2 separate regions of the Homo sapiens genome follow, and region 1 is linked to region 2. Evidence: fine-mapped expression QTL. A gene starts in region 2. The other region holds a variant in brackets. All regions are shown on one strand. Distances are between the middles of the regions.

Evidence for each region.
Region 1: its variant is fine-mapped to the expression of CCDC57 in thyroid (GTEx, PIP 0.95).

Annotation. Positions count from the first base shown.
Region 1 is chr17:82,090,062-82,095,568 of GRCh38, reverse strand. FASN (fatty acid synthase) reads left to right here. Exons shown (of 43, transcript NM_004104.5): 3 at 97-249; 4 at 1,798-1,971; 5 at 2,150-2,350; 6 at 2,550-2,672; 7 at 2,757-2,872; 8 at 2,980-3,114; 9 at 3,885-4,347; 10 at 4,500-4,687; 11 at 5,005-5,194. SNORD134 (small nucleolar RNA, C/D box 134) reads left to right here and starts at 5,429; the gene lies at 5,429-5,507. The variant T/C (reference allele first, on the strand shown) is at 2,262.
Region 2 is chr17:82,210,170-82,215,169 of GRCh38, reverse strand. It overlaps CCDC57 (coiled-coil domain containing 57), which reads left to right and starts at 2,328. Exons shown (of 19, transcript NM_001394669.1): 1 at 2,328-2,385. RefSeq lists enhancers at 1-57, 975-1,917 and a silencer at 1,868-2,787.

The DNA.
Region 1 (5,507 bases), 120 kb after region 2:
TTCCACCATGGCCCCTCCAGGGGCCTGCAGCACCCCACAGGGCCCCCACCTCTGGGCAGCTTCCGTCAGAGATTTAAACACCCGCCTGTCCCACAGGGCTCTACGGCCTGCCCCGGCGGTCCGGCAAGCTGAAGGACCTGTCTAGGTTTGATGCCTCCTTCTTCGGAGTCCACCCCAAGCAGGCACACACGATGGACCCTCAGCTGCGGCTGCTGCTGGAAGTCACCTATGAAGCCATCGTGGACGGAGGTGGGTCGGGCATTCGCGACTGCTGCGCCGAGGGCTCCTGCTGCTCACGTGGAATAGGCAGTGTTTTCTCTTCTTGGTTCTGGTAGAACCAGGTGCTGGCACCACCTACCCTCCCCGGCTGTGCCCCTGGCCTGGCCAACGGGCTCAGGGAGGTGTGGGCCACGGGGTAGGCCGCAGTTTCCCAACTGCACCCCAGAGGTGTCGCGGGTGTGCCCTGACCTGAGCGTACCAGTCTCCTCGCTTCTGATGTCTGGCTGGTGCTGGGGCCGGGGCCGGGGCTGGAGTGACGAGAGGCAAAGCAGGAGGTTCTTGAGGGGCCCTCCAGGCCCCCACCCCCACCAGCCAAGCAGCGGACAGCACCGGCCCTGCTGTCTCTCCCCTCCCACCCTCCCCACTACCCTTGCCCACGTCCCCCCACCCCAGGCATTTCAACCCTCTCCCGCCAGCCTGGCCCTCGCTCTGACTGGCATTTGACCTCGGACAAGCGCCACGCCGTTTTTTTATTTTTATTTTTATTTATTTATTTATTTTTAAGACGGAGTCTCACTCTGTCACCAGGTTGGAGTGCAGTGGCGCGATCTCAGCTCACTGCAAGCTCTGCCTCCTGGGTTCACACCATTCTCCTGCCTCAGTCTCCTGAGTGGCCGGGACTACAGGCGCCCACCACCACGCCCGGCTAATTTTTGTATTTTTAGTAGAGATGGGGTTTCACCATGTTTGCCAGGATGGTCTCGATCTCTTGACCTCGTGATCCATCCATCTCAGCTTCCCAAAGTGCTGGGATTACAGGCATGAGCCACCACGCCCAGCCATGCCATTTCTTAAGATCCAGGTGCTCCCTCCCCGGGCGGAGAAGGACCTCCTGAGGGGGAGGCTGAGCCCTGGGCTGCCCTTGGGTGTGAGCGGTTCACACACCCACCCACCCTAGGGCAGAGCCAGCCCACCAGGGGCGAGGAGGGGCCCTGCTGGCCGAGAGGTGGAAGCCCTTCTCCTGCGCCCTTCCTGCTGCCAGACCCCACCCCAAGACTAAGGTTATGCTCCCCGGGGGTGACCGGTGTCCCTCTCTCCTTCCCGAGCCTGGACACTTGGCCTTTGTCTCCTCGGTTCCTTATCACGGCCTGTTCTGGTGCAGGCTGCCCTTGGCGCTGGAGAGGCCACTGGCCGACGGGCTCATCAGAGCTGCCGGTGACACCAGGGGCCAAAGGCGTCGCCTGGGGACAATGCTGCCCTCTGTCCTTCCTGGAGCCACTCTGGCCGTGCCTGGTGCCCTCCCCTGGGCCCGCCTGCCCCCTCCGCCTCGTTCCCTCTGTGACCTGGTTCCTGTTCCAGGCCTCACCTGGGCTGGCTGCTGGCCACAGGCTCTGTTCTGGCCCCTCTGCAGGACACCTCACCCTCCTTAGGCCCCTTCCAGGGTCCCACTGGGATGGACCCCCCCTCACCCCAAGCCAGTGAGGCCAAGATGGGACCTTCGCCCCAGAGCCGGGTGGGTGGGTGGGCTGGCTGCGCTGTGGGGCCCGGCCGTGGCACCTTGACCACTGTTTGTGGCAGGCATCAACCCAGATTCACTCCGAGGAACACACACTGGCGTCTGGGTGGGCGTGAGCGGCTCTGAGACCTCGGAGGCCCTGAGCCGAGACCCCGAGACACTCGTGGGCTACAGCATGGTGGGCTGCCAGCGAGCGATGATGGCCAACCGGCTCTCCTTCTTCTTCGACTTCAGAGGTGGGTCCTGCCCAGCCTCCTGCGGAGGTGGGTGGCCTTCAGGTCCCCACATGCTGAGCAGAAACCACGTGGCGTGGGCTCACTCCGTGCAGTGTGTGTCCAGCCTGGTGGCAGGAGGTGTGCTCAGGGGTCTCGTGTGCTCACAGCCCCACCTGAGCCGCAGCACCCTTCCTTGCAGGGCCCAGCATCGCACTGGACACAGCCTGCTCCTCCAGCCTGATGGCCCTGCAGAACGCCTACCAGGCCATCCACAGCGGGCAGTGCCCTGCCGCCATCGTGGGGGGCATCAA[T/C]GTCCTGCTGAAGCCCAACACCTCCGTGCAGTTCTTGAGGCTGGGGATGCTCAGCCCCGAGGGCACCTGCAAGGCCTTCGACACAGCGGGTGAGTGTGCGGCTGCGCGGCCAGGGCAGGCGGGACAGTGGCACAGGACGGCCCCCCGCACAGTCCCCACGCTGAGCAGGATCCTGCCAGCTCCGGGGATCCCCCACCCAAGCACCCACCCCACACCCCAGAGCTCCTCCTGGTGGGGTGGGGGCCGGCGTGGGGCTGAGCCCCGGGCCTGAGGTGCTGCTCTACCCAGGGAATGGGTACTGCCGCTCGGAGGGTGTGGTGGCCGTCCTGCTGACCAAGAAGTCCCTGGCCCGGCGGGTGTACGCCACCATCCTGAACGCCGGCACCAATACAGATGGCTTCAAGGAGCAAGGTGGGCTCTGCCGGGGTTCCGGGGTGCTGGGGGGCAGGTGGGAGCCGGGGCTGGGGCTGCAGCACTGAGCCGAGCCCTCCGCAGGCGTGACCTTCCCCTCAGGGGATATCCAGGAGCAGCTCATCCGCTCGTTGTACCAGTCGGCCGGAGTGGCCCCTGAGTCATTTGAATACATCGAAGCCCACGGCACAGGCACCAAGGTGATGCCCCCCCCCCCCGCCCCACTCACCACCCCATGAGCCTAACCTACGCCCATGCCTGGAGAGGTGACCTGGCCAGAGCCCCTCACCCCCCATGTTTCCCACAGGTGGGCGACCCCCAGGAGCTGAATGGCATCACCCGAGCCCTGTGCGCCACCCGCCAGGAGCCGCTGCTCATCGGCTCCACCAAGTCCAACATGGGGCACCCGGAGCCAGCCTCGGGGCTGGCAGCCCTGGCCAAGGTAGGTGGGGCTGGGCTTGGGGGTCCCTCAGGCTCCTGCTCCCTGGGACTGGGTTGCGCCATGGCTGGGCACTGCTGCTTTCTCTTTGCCAAGTGGAGGCGGGGGCTTCCCCACCAGGAGCCTCTGTCCCCCGGGCTATGCTGCAGGTCTGAGCAGAGGCACTGAGGCTGACAGCAGGGAGAGCTCGTAGCCAGGCTCGCTGGGCCTTCCCTGGAGGCCTGATGCCCTGCAGAGCGTCTGCCGGACACGGAGCCGAGCTGGAGGAGCCGCTTGGGTGGGAAGAGCGAGGCAGGAGCAGGCCTGGGGGGGTCCACGGCACCATCAGGGTCTCCCGTGTCGCCCACCCGTCCCTACAGCTTCCTGACCCACTAGCAGAGGCCTGGGGACCTTTAGAGAGACCAGGCACAGGAGCCCCAACACCCATGATCACTCACGCCCTCTGCCCCCCAACTTCTGCAGCCTCTGAGATGCAACATCTGGGCCAAGGGGGCCTTAGTGTTCAGGCCACAGCCAGGCTTTGGTGGGTCCACATCAGGCTGGGAGGCAGCAAGGCCGGAAGGGGAGGTCTTGGACCAAGCTGAGGGCAGGGCCATGGCGGCTCAGTCCTCGGACCCCTGTGCCATGGCAGAATTAGGTTGGGGACAGGAAGTGCATCGGAGAGGGCCCTGGAACCCTGGCCCCACATGAGAGTCTCGGGGAGGTGCCTGCCCCCAGCTCAGGCAGTGGTAGAGGGAGTGGGGCGGCTGCCCATCCACCACGTACCCCCGCAGGTGCTGCTGTCCCTGGAGCACGGGCTCTGGGCCCCCAACCTGCACTTCCATAGCCCCAACCCTGAGATCCCAGCGCTGTTGGATGGGCGGCTGCAGGTGGTGGACCAGCCCCTGCCCGTCCGTGGCGGCAACGTGGGCATCAACTCCTTTGGCTTCGGGGGCTCCAACGTGCACATCATCCTGAGGCCCAACACGCAGCCGCCCCCCGCACCCGCCCCACATGCCACCCTGCCCCGTCTGCTGCGGGCCAGCGGACGCACCCCTGAGGCCGTGCAGAAGCTGCTGGAGCAGGGCCTCCGGCACAGCCAGGACCTGGCTTTCCTGAGCATGCTGAACGACATCGCGGCTGTCCCCGCCACCGCCATGCCCTTCCGTGGCTACGCTGTGCTGGGTGGTGAGCGCGGTGGCCCAGAGGTGCAGCAGGTGCCCGCTGGCGAGCGCCCGCTCTGGTTCATCTGCTCTGGTGAGCCCACACTCTGCCCCCAAGGTGGTCCCTTCCCTGGGGAAAGGCAGGCGAACTGGAGCTGGTGGTCCCCTGAGGTGCTCTCTGGGACGGGGATGGGCACACAGTGGCACGGGATGGGGCTGAGCCTCGTGACGTGCTCTCTGGGACAGGGATGGGCACACAGTGGCGCGGGATGGGGCTGAGCCTCATGCGCCTGGACCGCTTCCGAGATTCCATCCTACGCTCCGATGAGGCTGTGAAGCCATTCGGCCTGAAGGTGTCACAGCTGCTGCTGAGCACAGACGAGAGCACCTTTGATGACATCGTCCATTCGTTTGTGAGCCTGACTGCCATCCAGGTAGGGCCCAGCCTGCCAGCGTGTGAGCAACGCCAGCCCCAGGGCTCTGGCTTTCCCTGGAGCCCAGGAGCTGCAGTGTTGAGTCCGGGGCCCCTGACAGCCCCTTTGCTAGGCAGAGCCTTGTGCTGGGGGCAGGACGGGAGGGGAGGAGGGGTCTCAGTGGGGCTGTGTGGGGGCCATAGGGGCTTCTTTCCTATCAGGAGACCTGGGAGGGTCGATGGGGCGCGGGGGTGGAGATGGCCTAGTGGGGCCGGGGGCCGCCCCCAACAGCTGCACCTGCTGGAGGTTGCAACCTGAGTGTCCTGTTCCCACCCCAGATAGGCCTCATAGACCTGCTGAGCTGCATGGGGCTGAGGCCAGATGGCATCGTCGGCCACTCCCTGGGGGAGGTGGCCTGTGGCTACGCCGACGGCTGCCTGTCCCAGGAGGAGGCCGTCCTCGCTGCCTACTGGAGGGGACAGTGCATCAAAGAAGCCCATCTCCCGCCGGGCGCCATGGCAGCCGTGGGTAGGTCTCCCGGAGGGGCCCCCAGCACCTCCAAGAAAGGAGGCTGCCTTCTCGCTGTGGGGTCCTCACCTGCAGCCCTGGCCTGGCCCCCGTAGGATAGAGTGGCCCCCGCTGGCCCGGGGACACCCAGCTCGGACACAGCCGTGCGCGAGTCCCCTGCAGCTGCCCCACTGGCCCCACACCTGGCAGCCTTGGGCCTAGGCACGTGTCCATGGGCATCAGGCCTGCGTGGAGCCCCCGTGTGATGAGCACACAGCTGCAGCATAGCAAGAACCCAGGGGCTCTGGTGAAGCCAACACACGGGTCATCAGGG
Region 2 (5,000 bases):
CCTCTGTGTGCTCACTCCTGGTGTCTCTTCCTCTTCTTTTAAGGACAACAGTTCAGGGTCCCACCCTTAGGACTCACGTAACTTTAATTACCTTCTTAGAGGCCCTATCCATAACACATAGGTTTAGAGGGTTTTTTTTGGAGACAGGGTCTTGCTCTGTCACCCAGGCTGGAGTGCAGTGGCGCGATCATAGTTCACTGTGGCCTCGAAGTGCTGTGTTCAAGTGATCTTCCCACCTTGGCCTCAGGTAGCTGGGACCACAGGCATGTGCCATCACACCCGGTTAATTTAAAAAAATTTTTTTTGGCCAGGCATGATGACTCACACCTGTAATCACAGCACTTTGGGAGGCCGAGGCAGGCAGATCACTTGAGGTCAGGAGTTTGAGACCAGCCTGGCCAACATGGCAAAACCCCATCTCTACTAAAAATACAAAATTAGCTGGGCATGGTGGCAAGTGCCTGTAATCCCAGTTACTCAGGAAGCTGAGGCAGGAGAATCGCTTGAACCTGGGAGGCGGAGGCTGCAGTGAGCTGAGATCACGCCGCTGAACTACAGCCTGGGCAACAGAGCGAGACCCTGTCTCCCGAGCTCAAAGGATCCTCCCTTTGGCCTCCCAAGGTGCTGGGTTCACAGGTGTGAGCACTGTGCCCGGCCCACACATGGGTTCCCATAGATCCCACTTTACAGGCAGGGACACTGAGGCATGCAGAGCCGGGATACAGACCAAGCAAGTCCTGGCTCCTCTTCTGGGTGTCCCAGCCCGTCTCGGACACCCACGCTTACCCAGGCCTGGTGGCTGCATCGTGGACATGGGGGCAAGGCAGCTCTCTGGGTGGGCAGAGGCAGGAGCTGAGGCAAGGATGTGGGCATCCTTTTGGGTACATCTAGTCCTAGAGCTGATCCAGGGGCCAGTCAAATGTGCAGCCAAAGTCGGGTCAACCCCAGCACTGTCCTGTGGGTGGGGGTAGCAGGGAGCCAACAGTCCAGGCCCTACATCCTGTTCTAATAGAGTGACAAGTCTGATGAGGCTGGGGGTGCACAAGCACTGAGAAGGCAGCAGGACAGGGAGCCAAACACATGGGGTGGTGGGGGAAACCAGGGAGCTGGACACAGGGTGGGGGGGTCCTGGGAGTTGGACACATGGGCCAGGTTGGGGGTCCAGGGAGCTAGACACAGGGGGTGGGGAGGGGAGTCCAGGGGACTAGACACAGAGTGGGGGGTGGGTCCAGGGGGCTAGACACACAGTGTGGGGGGTGGGTCCAGGGAGCCGGACATACACATGGGGTGGGGAGGGGGCATCCAGGGAACCAAGTCTAGGCAGAGGCAACTGGCGCAAAGGACCTGAGGCAGAAGAGGGTTTGGTGTGTGAGGCGGGACTGAGGACTGTGGGCGAGGGAGACAGCTCTACCAGGACGCATGGTTCGGGGAGGACAGGCTGCAGGGTGCCTGGGCTGCAGGCACGGCACGGAGAGGAGTGATCCAGTGTTAACAATGTGGGTGGAGGATGACACCAGACCCCTGGCTTATTGCCCCACCAGGGGAATTCCCAGACACCAAACACCCCCTCCACTCCCACGCAGAATTGCGGGCTGAGGGTTCGGGTGAGCCAGGCTGCTCTGTCCCGGGGCCGGGCTCTGTTCATCCATCCGCAGATGGATACGGACACGTGCCTTTTTCTGAGGATGTGAATGGTTGGGAATGGCTGTGCCTGAGGATGTTGTTCCCACAGGATGGTGGGGGCGACTTCGGGCCTCGGTGGGTCCCGACCCCCCTCCTTCCCCCAGTTCCCTAATCAGGGTCTGAGCGACCGCGCGCACGGCCCCTGGGCCCCGCCGGTCTCCGAGCCCGTGGGCAGCGCCGGGAACTCGTGCCCCGGTGGCCGCAGCCGACCCTTAGGCAGGACTTCGTGGCGCCCCCGGCCCGAACAGACCCCCACGGGCAGCCTCGGCCGCCCCGTGCTCCCTTCATCTCAGGGCAAAAGCTCAAGTCAACCCTTCGGGACCGCGAGCCGGGCGGCCTCAGGAAGCGGGCGCCTGGGGACCCTCGGCCGGGCCGGGGGCGGCGAAGGTGGGGGCGCCTCGCGCGGCGGAACCCGCCGTCCCCATAGCCCGGAGCCCCGTCCGGAGTCGCCCCGCTGACCGGTGAGGAGGCCGGGCTCCCTCCTTCGATCTGCGGCGGTGGTCGGGTCGGCCGGGGCGCCCCTCGGACCCGGGCGCAGCGCGGAACCCGGCGGGGCGGGAGGGGCCGGAACCTAGCGCCAGGGACCCCGTTTCCTGTCGGCGGGACCCGAGCGCTGCACCGAGCGCAGCCGGACGCGGCCGACTGACCCGGTCGCTGTGGCAACGCGGCGGGACCTGGCCAGCGCTGCTGGCGGGCGTTAGGGTGAGGTGCGGGCGGGCGGCGTGGGAGGCGTGGGAGGCGTGGGGGGCGCCGCTCCGACCACTCTTCCTGTAGAAAACCCCAGCAGCTGCCGTCCTGTCGGACGCAGCGCTTTGGTGGGGACCTGGAGCGCGAGGTCGACCCTCAGAGCTCGGCCAGGCCCGGACCGGGGATCCCCTCGCGGAGGCTGCGGCGGGGCGGGGCGGGGGTTGCGGCCGCGTGGAGCGGGAGCGTTCCCTCGGTCTCCCGTGGGTGACCTGGGGCGGTGGGCGCTGCCGACCAGGGCCCCGCAGCCCCGGGAGAATTCCCCGGGTTCCGCCGCCGGCAAGGACGGCTCCGCGCCCAGGCAGCCTTACAGTGTCTGTGAGTTTAAAAAAAAAAAAAAAAAAAGAGAGGAAAAAAAAAGGCCGGAGGCGGTGGTTCGCGCCTGTAATCCAGCACTTTGGGAGGCAGAGGCGGGCAGATTGCTTGAGGCCCGGAGTTCGAGACCAGCCTGGCCAACATGGTGAAACCCCCTCTCTACTAAAAATACAAAAATTATTGGGCGTGGTGGTGCACGCCTGTAATCCCAGCTACTCCGGAGGCTGAAGCAGGAGAATCGCTTGAACCCGATGTTGTAACTGAGGGAGTTATAGAGAGAACGCCACACTCTGAGACTACTCAGGAGTCCTGTATTGCCAGCGACTGACAGACTGCTAGAGCTGCAAATTCCCTCGGCCCCGAAGAAGGGGCTAGATTTCTTTTGATACCTTGGTCTAAATAGAGGAGGGGAGGCTAGCTGAAGCGATTTTTTTACAGAAGCAGAATAGGCAAAAAGTTAAAAGATAAATGGTTACAGAAACAGTTACAGGAAAATAAACAGTTCCAGGTACAGGGGCTTAAATTATCACAAAGTGATAAACGCAGGGGCTTTGGGTACCATCAACCGAGCGCGTTCCCAGGAGCTGCTGGTACAGCTTGCTCCAGTTTCTTATCAGTATTTTATCAGTAAGCGCATTCCTGGATGTGCTTGGAGTCAGCTTGCCCCAGTTATGTCCTTAAGGGACGGGGACAAGGGGCTGCAAGCGAAGAAACCAAAATGGTGTCTGTCCGGCCCTCTCAGCTAAGAGAGAGTCAGTCAGGTTAAAACAAAGTAGGGTACCACACCGAGAGGCGCAGGTTGCGGAGAGCCAAGATCGCGCCATTGCACTCCAGTCTGGGAGACAAGAGCGAAACTCGGTCTCAAAAAAAAAAAAAATTATCTGTAACTTAGAAAAAGGATACAAAAGGAGCACAGATTTCCCGTGTGCCTTTTGCCCAGAGCCCCTAGAATGCTGACCTCTTAGAGAACCACAGTTCATTCAGCAACATGTAGACGCTGGCGTTCATGTTGGTATCATCCCATGATCTGGTCTCCAGTATTTATTCTTGCTTAGCAGCTACCTCATGGATGACTTTACCGTGGTCCAGGATCCAATGATGAGTCCACTATTTTATAAAATGCCCCCCAGTTCGGGGGCATTTCTCTGATGTTTTGTCATAATTGATTTCATATTACTGATTTTTGGCAAGAAAACCTCAACAGGGAAATTGTGCCCTTCCCAGCGTCTTACGAGACACAGGATGCCCCTGGCTGTTGGTGCTAGTCACGTCCTGGGGGCTGAGGTGGTGTCTGCCAAGTGTGTCCATAAAGTTAGGGTCCTTCCCTTTGTAAATAATAAATATTTTGTGGGGAAATATCTTGCCACTATGTAAAAGATGATGTTTCTTTCTTTCTCTCTTTTTCTTTTTTTTTTTTCTTTTTTTTTTTTTTTTAAGACGGAGTCTCTCTTTGCCGCCCAGGCTGGAGTTCAGTGGCGCGATCTCGGCCCACTGCAACCTCTGCCTCCTGGGTTGAAGTGATTCTCCTGCCTCAGCCTCTCAAGTAGCTGGGATTACAGCCGCCCACCACCACCCCCAGCTAATCTGTGTATTTTTAGTAGAGACGAGGTTTCGTCATGTTGGCCAGGCTGGTCTCAAACTTCTGACCTCAGGTGATCCACCACCTTGGCCTCCCAAAGTGCTAGGATTACAGGTGTGAGCCACCGTGCCCGGCCTTTTTTTTTTTTTAATTAATTTTATTTTTTTGAGACTGAGTCTCTCTCTCTCTCGCCCAAGCTGGAGTGCAGTGGCTTGATCTCGGCTCACTGCAACCTCTGCCTCCCGGGTTCAAGTGATTGTCCTGCCTCAGCCTCCTGAGCAGCTGGGATTACCAGCGCCTGCCACCATGCCCGGCTATTTTTTTTTTTTTTGTATTTTTAGTAGAGACGGGGTTTCACCATGTTGGTCAGGCTGGTCTCGAACTGCTGACCCCAAGTGATCCGCCCGCCTTGGCCTCCGAAAGTGCTGGGATTACAGGCCTGAGCCACAACGCCCAGCAAGATCTTGTTTCTAACCATACTTCTGTCACTAATTTTAGCACCCATGAGTGTTTCCCCAAAATAACTGTTAATGTGCTATTTGTTAAATGATTTTTCTGTTTCCATTACTCCTACATTTATTAGTTGGGATTTTCCTATAAGAAAGAACCATCTCTTCCCAGGCTGGCTTGCAGGGGCGCGGTCTCGGTGTTAGTGCATCTTTTTATTCCATGGATTCTA